Linked DNA regions of Homo sapiens. The protein of the gene in region 1 interacts with the protein of each later gene in a biochemical or structural test. Each region holds a gene or a part of one and is shown in the gene's direction. Other genes may lie near its edges. The genes, in order: S100A8, SLC8A1 and TRPM4.

Region 1 (3,161 bases):
GGAATGGATTTAGCCCTCGGCAACAACACATGTCCCCACAAAACATTTTCTTCATCCATTCATGTGTTGAGGGACACTTGGGTTGCTTCCACCTTTTGGCTCTTGTAAATAATGCTGCTATGAACATGAATGTACAAACATCTGTTTGAATCCCTGCATTCAATTCTTTTGCATATATACCCAGGAGCAGAATGATGGATCATATGGTAATTCTGTGTTTATTTATTTGAGGAACAAACTTGCCGTTTTCCATAACAGCTGCACTATTTTACATTCCCACTAACAGTGCATTAGGCTTCCAATTCTCTATGCCCTCACCAACACTTGTTTTCTGGGTTTTAAAAGAAGTAGTAGTCATCCTTGTAGGTGTCAGGTGGTATCTCATTGTCGTTTTGCTTCATGTTTTCCTAAAGATTAGTAATTTTCATATGCTTATTGACCATTTGTATATCTTCTTCGGAGAAGTGTCTATTTGAGTCTTTTCCCCAATTTTTGATTGGTTTGTTTGTTTTTTGTTGTTGAGTTGTAGGGATTCTTTTATATTCTGGATATTAATCCCTTATCAGATATTTGTTTTACAAATATTTTCTTTGTAACAACAGAAACACACCACAGTCTTCAAGGTTGGAAGCCAGTTAATCTGAGTAGCATTTTGTTAGTGGTGGGGAGAGGATTTGTTCCTCCTGAAATCCTGGGGAATTGGCCACCTCCTCTTCTCCTCTTAGGCATGAAGCGCGTCTGGCTTCTCCAAAGAACTCTTCCCCTCCACTACCTCAGAGTTAGCTTCCTCTCTTCAGCCAGTGATCCTGGGGTCCCAGACACAATAATTAACCAAGAGAGGGTGAAAGGCTCCCTGCTGTGTTTATGCAATGGCTCAGGCCCTTGTGAAGTGCCGAGGGACCCCAAGCAGCCTCCATCTCCCAGGGCATGGTCCATCCCCAGCTTCACAGAACAGGAAAGCTGTGGAGGAGTGTGGGCAGCAGGGTAGGAATGGATATAGCCCTTGGCAACAACACATTTCCCCACAAAGCACCCACCCAAAAGAACAACAACGATAGTTTTAGTTTTTAGTAATGAGAACAATAGTTCTCATGACTAAAAGCCATCAGCCAGGACACGTGTTCTCAACCCTTTTGCGGTCTTTGGACCCTTTGAAACTCTGACAGAAGCCATGGAGGAATGTTCTCACTGAGTGCATGCACTCAAAATGATGCATTCAACTTCAATTCAGTTTCAGGGATGTATGGCCTGACCACCAATGCAGGGGATTAGCAATCGCAATAGTGGAGAGGGCATGGGAGTGGGAATCTGGCTGGATCAAGCAAGTGGATGCCAGCAGCCCAGAAAAAGAGCCCCCCTACCTGCTTTTTCCTTCTGGGCACTATTGCCCAGCAAATGCCTTCCTCTTTCCGCTTCTCCTACCTCCCCACCCAAAATTTTCATTCTGCACAGTGATTGCCACATTCACCTGGTTGAGAAACCAGAGACTGTAGCAACTCTGGCAGGGAGAAGCTGTCTCTGATGGCCTGAAGCTGTGGGCAGCTGGCCAAGCCTAACCGCTATAAAAAGGAGCTGCCTCTCAGCCCTGCATGTCTCTTGTCAGCTGTCTTTCAGAAGACCTGGTAAGTGGGACTGTCTGGGTTGGCCCCGCACTTTGGGCTTCTCTTGGGGAGGGTCAGGGAAGTGGAGCAGCCTTCCTGAGAGAGGAGAGAGAAAGCTCAGGGAGGTCTGGAGCAAAGATACTCCTGGAGGTGGGGAGTGAGGCAGGGATAAGGAAGGAGAGTATCCTCCAGCACCTTCCAGTGGGTAAGGGCACATTGTCTCCTAGGCTGGACTTTTCTTGAGCAGAGGGTGGGGTGGTAAGGAAAGTCTACGGGCCCCGTGTGTGTGCACATGTCTCTGTGTGAATGGACCCTTCCCCTTCCCACACGTGTATCCCTATCATCCCACCCTTCCCACCAGAGCCATAGCCATCTGCTGGTTTGGTTATTTGGAGAGTGCAGGCCAGGACAAGGCCATCGCTTGGGGCATGAATCCTCTGCGTACTGCCCTGGCCAGATGCAAATTCCCTGCCATGGGATTCCCCAGAAGGTTCTGTTTTTCAGGTGGGGCAAGTCCGTGGGCATCATGTTGACCGAGCTGGAGAAAGCCTTGAACTCTATCATCGACGTCTACCACAAGTACTCCCTGATAAAGGGGAATTTCCATGCCGTCTACAGGGATGACCTGAAGAAATTGCTAGAGACCGAGTGTCCTCAGTATATCAGGGTGAGGAGGGGCTGGGTGTGGCGGGGGCTCTCTGCCTGGTCCTGGGGCTGCCCTGGGCCAGCGGTCCTCCCTGCCACCCTTCATAGATGGCTATGCCTCGGCTCTCTCTGAGATCTTTAAACTCTGGCTTCTTCCTCCTCAATCTTGACAGAAAAAGGGTGCAGACGTCTGGTTCAAAGAGTTGGATATCAACACTGATGGTGCAGTTAACTTCCAGGAGTTCCTCATTCTGGTGATAAAGATGGGCGTGGCAGCCCACAAAAAAAGCCATGAAGAAAGCCACAAAGAGTAGCTGAGTTACTGGGCCCAGAGGCTGGGCCCCTGGACATGTACCTGCAGAATAATAAAGTCATCAATACCTCATGCCTCTCTCTTATGCTTTTGTGGAATGAGGTTCCTCGGTGTGGAGGGAGGGTTGGAAAACCCAAAGGAAGAAAAAGAAATCTATGTTATCCCACCCTACCTCTCACAAGCCTTTCCTGCTTTACCCCTCACCTGGCCTCTGCCCCACATTCCCTTCCAGCCCCTCCATCTTGAGCCATTGGATTTGAGGCTTAAGGATTCCAAAAAGTCCATGACACTATAGCTGATGATTTTACTAGTGGTTCTGAAATGGGTCGGGGATTTGGGAACAGGGTGGTAGTATAAGAACAACTGATACTGTTCTCTAAGCTAAATTTTAGCTTCCAGCTAAATGTCTTAGATGTGGCTCTTGGGAAATTAGAGTGATAGCTACATAGAAGTGTGTGGGTGTGTGTGTGTGTGTCTGTGTGTGTGTGTGTGAGAGAGAGACAGACAGAAAGAGAGCAAGAGAGGGAAGGGGGGAGAGGCTGATTGTGTGTGTGGTGTGATGTAGGTGGACAATGTTCAGAGTCCTCCATTAACAGGATAAT
Region 2 (3,652 bases), on another chromosome or scaffold:
TGAGTCTTTCAGTCAGCAAGAATTACATAGAAGGGAATTCCAAGTACTGATGAAGGCCATCAAGGAGTTCCTTGGAATAACCCCAGCTGCCAATCAAGAGGATGCCATTAGGATGACTGTCCAATATATTGGGCTGTTAGGAATGCCAGCATATGCCTTTGCTCTGAGTCACGTCCTCCTTGGTAGTCAAAACTGGCTATAGCTTCCAGCAGGGAATGGTCACCGTGCTGCCAACCACTCTTCAGGCCTCTGCTCCAAAAGCTCTCCCTCTTCCTTTACAAAGCAGTTGGATCTATCTCTTGTAGATGTGGGTTTCTATTCCTTGTAGCTGTGACCTCTTCCTCCGACACAACTGGCTGGACTACTCACAGCTGGATATCTTTTTACCATCCTTTGTCAGTGTCATTTGGGTCTGTAATCTGTGGGTGATGGGTTGTGTGTTGTTTTAAAATAAATAGTGATCAGAAGATAATTTGGGTATTCTTGATACTGTGCTAAAGTCTCATTTCATGATGTAATGGATATTTTAAGTTAGTACTGCTCACAGTTGTACGAGTTGATCTGAATCCACCATAAAAATCAGCCTATACTTTGTATTGGTAAATTAAGGCAGAATATAAGAAAGCCAGGCAGCAAATCAACATATCCACAGTCTCTATTCTTATCTTTCTGCTTAATTTGTATGGAAATGTATATTTGAGGGAAAATGGGGAGAGTTTAGTAGAACTACTTTGAATCTGATGATAGAGGAAAGACCCCGAAAGAAAGAAAACAAAAGGATGAAGAAGGAACTCACATTTAGATAACATCTATTCCACATCTTCGTGGGCATTTGAATTTGGTATTAATTTAATAAGAAAAAGAAATTTAAGTCCAGAGAGTTCTTTCCAATTGCTTCATTGCCAATAAGCTACATCAGTGTGCTGTGTCCACTGTTCACAAATTATAATACTGCTCTCTTTTGAATATAATTGTAATGTTTTTAGTTAACACCGGAAGCCCCCTTCCTTTTTCTCTGATAATGATGATGGATTTTTACTGACCTGTCTACCTTTAGACATCTGGTGACCTTTTGGCTAAGAACATATTGTGGGATGTGGGCTAGGGAAGGGATAAAGGGCAGGGCTTTTTCTTGGCTGGCCCAGGAGATTGCCCTGACAGTGCATGCAGGAAGAGGTTGCCAGGCAATTGCTAAAAGACCAGATTGAAGGGCAGCTGTCTCTAGGAACATGCTAGCCCTCATGTTACATCACAGTTATTGATGCTTGTCTGTTTGAGTCTAATGCATAAGATAAAAGCCAGGCTATTGGAAACCTTCCACAAGACTTTTGCTAACTAGGCCCTCCTGACCCTGCATGGAAGCCAAGAGGCTTTCCAACGGGCTAGTCCAAGCCAACCCCAATAGTTCTCAAAGATTACTTCACACACTATCAGGGATGATATAATGGAGCAGTTAGTTATATCAGTCTTGGAAAAAGACCAGGGGTTGGGTCTTAGTTGAGGAGTTTACTGTCTGTATGACTTTCAGCAAGTACTTAACCTATCTAAGCCTCAGTTATCCAACCTCCAAATGGGCTAATAGTACCTACTATTTAGGATTATTGTTAGGGTACTGTGCATTGCACATCTCCAGGGGTGCTGTTCTCATGGACTATAATGGAAATAGCAACACTAGGCATTTTATAACAGCAATGCTGGCTAATGGAAATATTAAATATAATTGATATGTATAGAGACAATTTAGCATGGTATCTGTGACTGTTTAAGAATGGAATCTAGTATTCTCTCAGGAAATTGGTTATAATTTGGTGTTCAGCTCTTTTGAAACTTGCTTCTAAGAAGGAAAAAGCAAAATAGTTTTGGACACAGAATAATCTGCAAAGACTTGGATGTAAGAAATTGTTACCTTGTTCAGGGAATGGGAATAATTTCCATATTCTGGAGCTCAGATGCCAGATCATAAAAGGTCTTAGAAAGCCTGTTGAGGGGTTTGAGCTTTGTCCTCAGGGAAGTGGGAAACCAATGAAGAGTTTTAAGGGACGTGAAGAGTGTCAGATCTGCACTTTAGGAATTTCATTTTGGCTGAAACGTGAAGAATGGAATGATGCGATTTGGCAGTAATTTGAAGGGAGTGGTTAGTTATATCAGTCTTGGAGACAGACACAGGTTTGAATCTCCCTTCAGTGTTTATGTTCAGTACTACTATTTATCACAAATATTTCACCTTTCTGATTCTTTCAGGTCCCCAAGACATTTCTTTCACCATTTTAAATGTTAAATATCTTCTGTACCATTTTGTATACCTGCCAAGTATTGGGATCACTTATAAATTAGATTTTATATAGTAGGCAAAATCTGGTCTCCTTGTTTCCACCCTTGCCCCTTCAGTCTTTTCTGCACTGAACCAGCAGAGAGATCCTTCTAAAAGAAAAATCAGATCATATCACCCTCTGATTAGAACCTCCCAGTGATTCTCATCTTCTACCCCATCAAAGCCCATGCCTTATGGCAATTCAGTGTTCTCTGATCCATTCCCACTCCTGAGCCCTGCCCCCTTGGTCCATTACCCTCTTGCTACATTGGTTTTCTGTGTTTTTAGACTGTGCCAAGCATGATTCCCATTAGGACCTTTGCACTTGCTGGAATTCTTTTCCTACAGATATCCACAAAACTTGATCTTTCGTGTCCTTCAGGACTTTGCTCAAGTGTTACCTTATCAGAGAGGCCTTCCTTAACCATCTAGTATGAAATCATGCATCCCACGTGTATACACACTGACACATACACACACACACACACACACACAATCTCACACTCTCCTTGTCCTCTATAGATTGTTCTGCACACACATGTACCATAGGAGTTTTTAACCTTCTGATATTTATATTTGTTTGTTTCCTCCACCATTAGAATATAAGCTCTGTGAGGACAGAGACTTTGTTTTATCACTGGTGAATTCTCAGGATCTAGAAGACAGACTAGTAAGTCTTTCTAAAATACATATTAAGCATGCATAAATATTGTGGATGAAATGGATACACAAGGGAGTTGGAACTAGATCTTCCAACATTCTTGCAGGATGGTTAAATTTCACCTTGTTTCAAGCAGAAATCTCAAAGCCTTTCAAAGACTGAACAAGCAGACATACTGACCAGAACTTTTGCATATTTTGAAAATATGCTACCTCTATTTTTCAGCCTTTTACTTAGTTTTGAATTCTACTGCTATAACCCTCCTCTGATTTTCTTTAGTATGGGAAAAATGTCAAAGAAGCTTATCTCCCTGTAGTGATGAGCTATAAAGGGCTTTAGTCTATGGTGGGATCTCTCAGGGTCTGCCAGAATGTCCTAGGCAGCGGTGTTCTCCTGGGCACTGGTGCAGTTTGCAGTATAAGCCATCAGCAGCAAACATGAGCCAGAGAGTGTAGGCGAATGTGGGGTGGCTCTCAGCCAGCCCGAAGCTATGAAAGCCTGTAATCCAGTTCCTCTTTTAACTTTTTCCAGGACATAAGGGTATGTTCTGACTCAGGGCTTCTTCCTATTGCTGCTTTATCTGATGTCATAACTAGTCCATCCTGCAAGGCCTGGGAGACAGTCACCTTGACTTGGAGCAGACCTTCCTCTACTTCAGTTTCCCCTCACCTCCATCCCAG
Region 3 (3,652 bases), on another chromosome or scaffold:
CTCCTGTACTCAAGTGATCCTCCCATTTCAGCCTCCCCAGTAGCTGGGACTACAGGTGCTTGCCCCTACTACTGGCTAAATTTTTATTTTTATTTATTTTATTATTATTATTATTATTATTTTTGAGACAGAGTCTCACTCTGTCGCCTAGGCTGCAGTGCATTGCAACCTCTGCCTCCCAGGTTCAAGCGATTCTCCCGCCTCAGCCTCCCGAGTATGTGGGACTACTGGCATGCGCCACCAGACCCGGCTAATTTTTGTATTTTTAGTAGAGACAGGGTTTCACCATGTTGGCCAGGCTGGTCTCGAACTCCCTACCTCAGGTGATCTGCCCGCCTTAACTCCCAAAGTGCTGCGATTACAGGCGTGAGCCACCGCGCCCGATCCGGGTATATTTTTAAAATATTTTTTGTAGAGATGAGGTTTTGCCATGTTGGCCAGGCTGGTCTCCAACTCCTCGGCTCAAGCGATCAATCCACCTCTTGACCGGAGATTTCAGAGGTCAGAGGTTAGATACAAGAGTCAAAACCCAAGAAATTAGCTCTGGGCAGACTGAGTTTCGGGTCAGGCAGGGTGAGATGTGCCAAGCCAAAAGTCTCGATGATGGTGGAGATCAGGACTCAGAGGTCAGAGTGAGGCCTCCTCCCTTCTCTTCTCTTCCCCCACAGGACGGCGGACCCAGCCGAGAAGACGCCGCTGGGGGTCCCGCGCCAGTCGGGCCGTCCGGGTTGCTGCGGGGGCCGCTGCGGGGGGCGCCGGTGCCTACGCCGCTGGTTCCACTTCTGGGGCGCGCCGGTGACCATCTTCATGGGCAACGTGGTCAGCTACCTGCTGTTCCTGCTGCTTTTCTCGCGGGTGCTGCTCGTGGATTTCCAGCCGGCGCCGCCCGGCTCCCTGGAGCTGCTGCTCTATTTCTGGGCTTTCACGCTGCTGTGCGAGGAACTGCGCCAGGGCCTGAGCGGAGGCGGGGGCAGCCTCGCCAGCGGGGGCCCCGGGCCTGGCCATGCCTCACTGAGCCAGCGCCTGCGCCTCTACCTCGCCGACAGCTGGAACCAGTGCGACCTAGTGGCTCTCACCTGCTTCCTCCTGGGCGTGGGCTGCCGGTGAGTGCCCCGGGGCCTTGGAACCCTGGCCCCTGGCCACCTCTCATCCTTCCTGCCCACTCCCGGGGTCTCCACTCCCGGCTTCCCCGCAGCTGGGCAGCAGGTCAAGCCAACCCTGCTGATTGAGAACCCCTCTTAGGAAAGTCGGGCATGACGATTGCCCCAGGGTAATTGGCTGGCACCTGGAGATCTGGCTTCAGGGACGGCAGGATTCAGGAGAAAACCCCACTGTCCGCCACTCAGCCTCTGCTGCTATTTATTGCTAGGCCTGAAGTTTAACAGATATTTATGGGAGCGCCCCGACCTGGGTGCCAACCTCACCTCCTCCCTTCTCTTCCTCCACATAGCTCGTTGGTCCCAGGCCCCTTGCCCTCCTGCCCCCGACTTTTTCTTTCTTTCCTTTTTTTTTCTTTCTTTCTTTCTCTTTCTTTCTTTTTCTTTCTTTCTTTCTTTCTTTCTTTCTTTCTTTCTTTCTTTCTTTCTTTCTTTCTCTCTCTTTCTTTTCTTTCTTTCTCTTTTCTTTTCCTTTCTTTTCTTTTTCTTTTTCTCTTTTCTTTCTCTCTCTCTCCCTCTGTCCTCTGCCCCTCTGCCTCCCTCCCTCCTTCCTTCCTTCCTTCCTTCCTTCCTTCCTTCCTTCCTTCTATGCTTCCTTCCATCCCTCCAAGCTAAGGGTTTAACCCTTGCCCTGCCTGCATTATGGAGTATCCTGCATTAGGATACTCCTCCTTTTGAGGAGAGCAAACAGAAAAGTTTGTGGATACAACCTGGTGACTGGTTTTTTGTTTGTTTGTTTGTTTTTGTTTTCTTTCTTTTCTTTTTTTTTTTTGAGCCAGAGTTCCGCTGTGTCGCCCAGACTGGAGTGCAGTGGTACGATCTTGGCTCACTGCAACCTCCACCTCCTGGGTTCAAGCGATTCTCTTGCCTCAGCCTCGTGAGTAGCTGGGATTACAGGCATGCACCACTACACCTAGCTAAATTTTTTTTGTATTTTTTTTGTAGAGATGGGGCTTTGCCATATTGACCAGGCTGGTCTTGAACTCTTGGCCTCAAGTGATCCACTGGCCTTAGCCTCTGAAAGTGCTGAGATTACAGATGTGGGTCACCGTGCCTGGCCAACAACCTGGTGACTGTTTACAAGGGACCTGACACATCCTGAATGGTTGACAGTGATGACAGTGATGATCCCTACTCAAGCTTTTCCCAGTAGACACGCTGAGAGGCAGGCTTCCTCTAAGCTATGTTAGCAGTGTTACAAAGTGATTCAACATAAATAATTTATTCAAGCAGGGAGCAAGATATGAGAGTTTTGCAGAACACTAATACTTCTGTTTGTAATTTGTTGTATTTTGTATAAAGTGACTTTTGAGATGAAAGGGCTAAGGCCATATGCTACCATGCTCTAGGATTGCCAGTGATATTTTGGACAGTTTATCAAGCCTACCACTTTCCAGGTGAAAAATGGAAAGATCTCAGCTTAAAAGGGAGAAACGGGCCTGGCGTGGTGGCTCATGCCTGTAATCCCAGCACTTTGGGAGGCCGAGGCGGGTGGATCACCTGAGATCAGGAGTTTGAGACCAGCCTGCCCAACATGGTGAAACCCCATCTCTACTAAAAATACAAAAAATTAGCCGGGCATGGTGGCAGGCGCCTGTAATCCCAGCTACTCGGGAGGCTGAGGCAGGATAATTGCCTGAACCTGGGAGGCGGAGGTTGCAGTGAGCCAAGATCATGCCACTGCACTCTAGCCTGGGTGAAAAGAGCAAAACTCTGTCAAAAAAAAAAAAAAAAAAAAAAGGGAGAAATGTCTAATCATCTCCGGAATTGAATGGATGAATCATCCTTTGTTTCGCCAGTTCCCTCTAGATGGACATTTAGGTTCTCTCTTTCTTTCTTTTTTTGTTTTAAATAGAGACAGGGTCTCACTCTGTTGCCCAGGCTGGTCTCAAACTCCAGGGCTCAAGCAATCCTCCCACCTTGGCCTCTCAAAGTGCTGGGATTACAGGCGTGAGCTACTATGCTCAGCCTTCTGTTTTTTTATTATTCCAAAATAATAAAAGTTTACATCCCAGATGTAAAGTTTATGGGTCAAAGGGTACATTTATTTTTGACATGGATAGATTTCCTTCTAAGTAGCTTCACTCATTTCCACACCTGCCATCAGGGTAAGAGAGTGCCCCCTTGAGGCCATGCTCGACAATGCCTGATACTTTCACTCTAAAATGTAGCTCTCAATTTAACTGAAAAAAAATTTGCCAATTTAATGGGTAAACATGACCTCTCCTTGTTATAATTTATGCACTCTTGACTACCAGATAGGTTGGACATCTTTTCCTAAGCTTAATGGCCATATGTCCTTGTGCCCCCTTGTTTTTTTTTTGGTTTTTGTTTTTGTTTTTGTTTTTGAGACGGAGTCTCGCTCTGTAGCCCAGGCTGGAGTGCAGTGGCGCGATCTCGGCTCACTGCAACCTCCGCCTCCCGGGTTCACGCCATTCTCCTGCCTCAGCCTACTGAGTAGCTGGGACTACAGGTGCCTGCCTCCACGCCCGGCT

The links.
Region 2: the proteins of S100A8 (region 1) and SLC8A1 interact in a biophysical measurement, tested with the Homo sapiens proteins (one large-scale study listed by IntAct).
Region 3: the proteins of S100A8 (region 1) and TRPM4 interact in a biophysical measurement, tested with the Homo sapiens proteins (one large-scale study listed by IntAct).

The regions. Positions count from the first base shown.
Region 1 is NC_000001.11:153,389,502-153,392,662, reverse strand, and holds S100A8 (protein S100-A8), read left to right. Parts: upstream 1-1,622; intron 1,623-1,686; exon of another isoform or gene 1,687-1,806; intron 1,807-2,088; coding exon of another isoform or gene 2,089-2,127; coding exon 2,128-2,268; intron 2,269-2,419; coding exon 2,420-2,560; 3' UTR 2,561-2,631; downstream 2,632-3,161. UniProt on the Homo sapiens protein: S100A8 is a calcium- and zinc-binding protein which plays a prominent role in the regulation of inflammatory processes and immune response. It can induce neutrophil chemotaxis and adhesion.
Region 2 is NC_000002.12:40,431,556-40,435,207, reverse strand, and holds part of SLC8A1 (sodium/calcium exchanger 1 isoform A precursor), read left to right. Parts: intron 1-3,652. UniProt on the Homo sapiens protein: Mediates the exchange of one Ca(2+) ion against three to four Na(+) ions across the cell membrane, and thereby contributes to the regulation of cytoplasmic Ca(2+) levels and Ca(2+)-dependent cellular processes.
Region 3 is NC_000019.10:49,195,772-49,199,423, forward strand, and holds part of TRPM4 (transient receptor potential cation channel subfamily M member 4), read left to right. Parts: intron 1-668; coding exon 669-1,103; intron 1,104-3,652. UniProt on the Homo sapiens protein: Calcium-activated selective cation channel that mediates membrane depolarization. While it is activated by increase in intracellular Ca(2+), it is impermeable to it.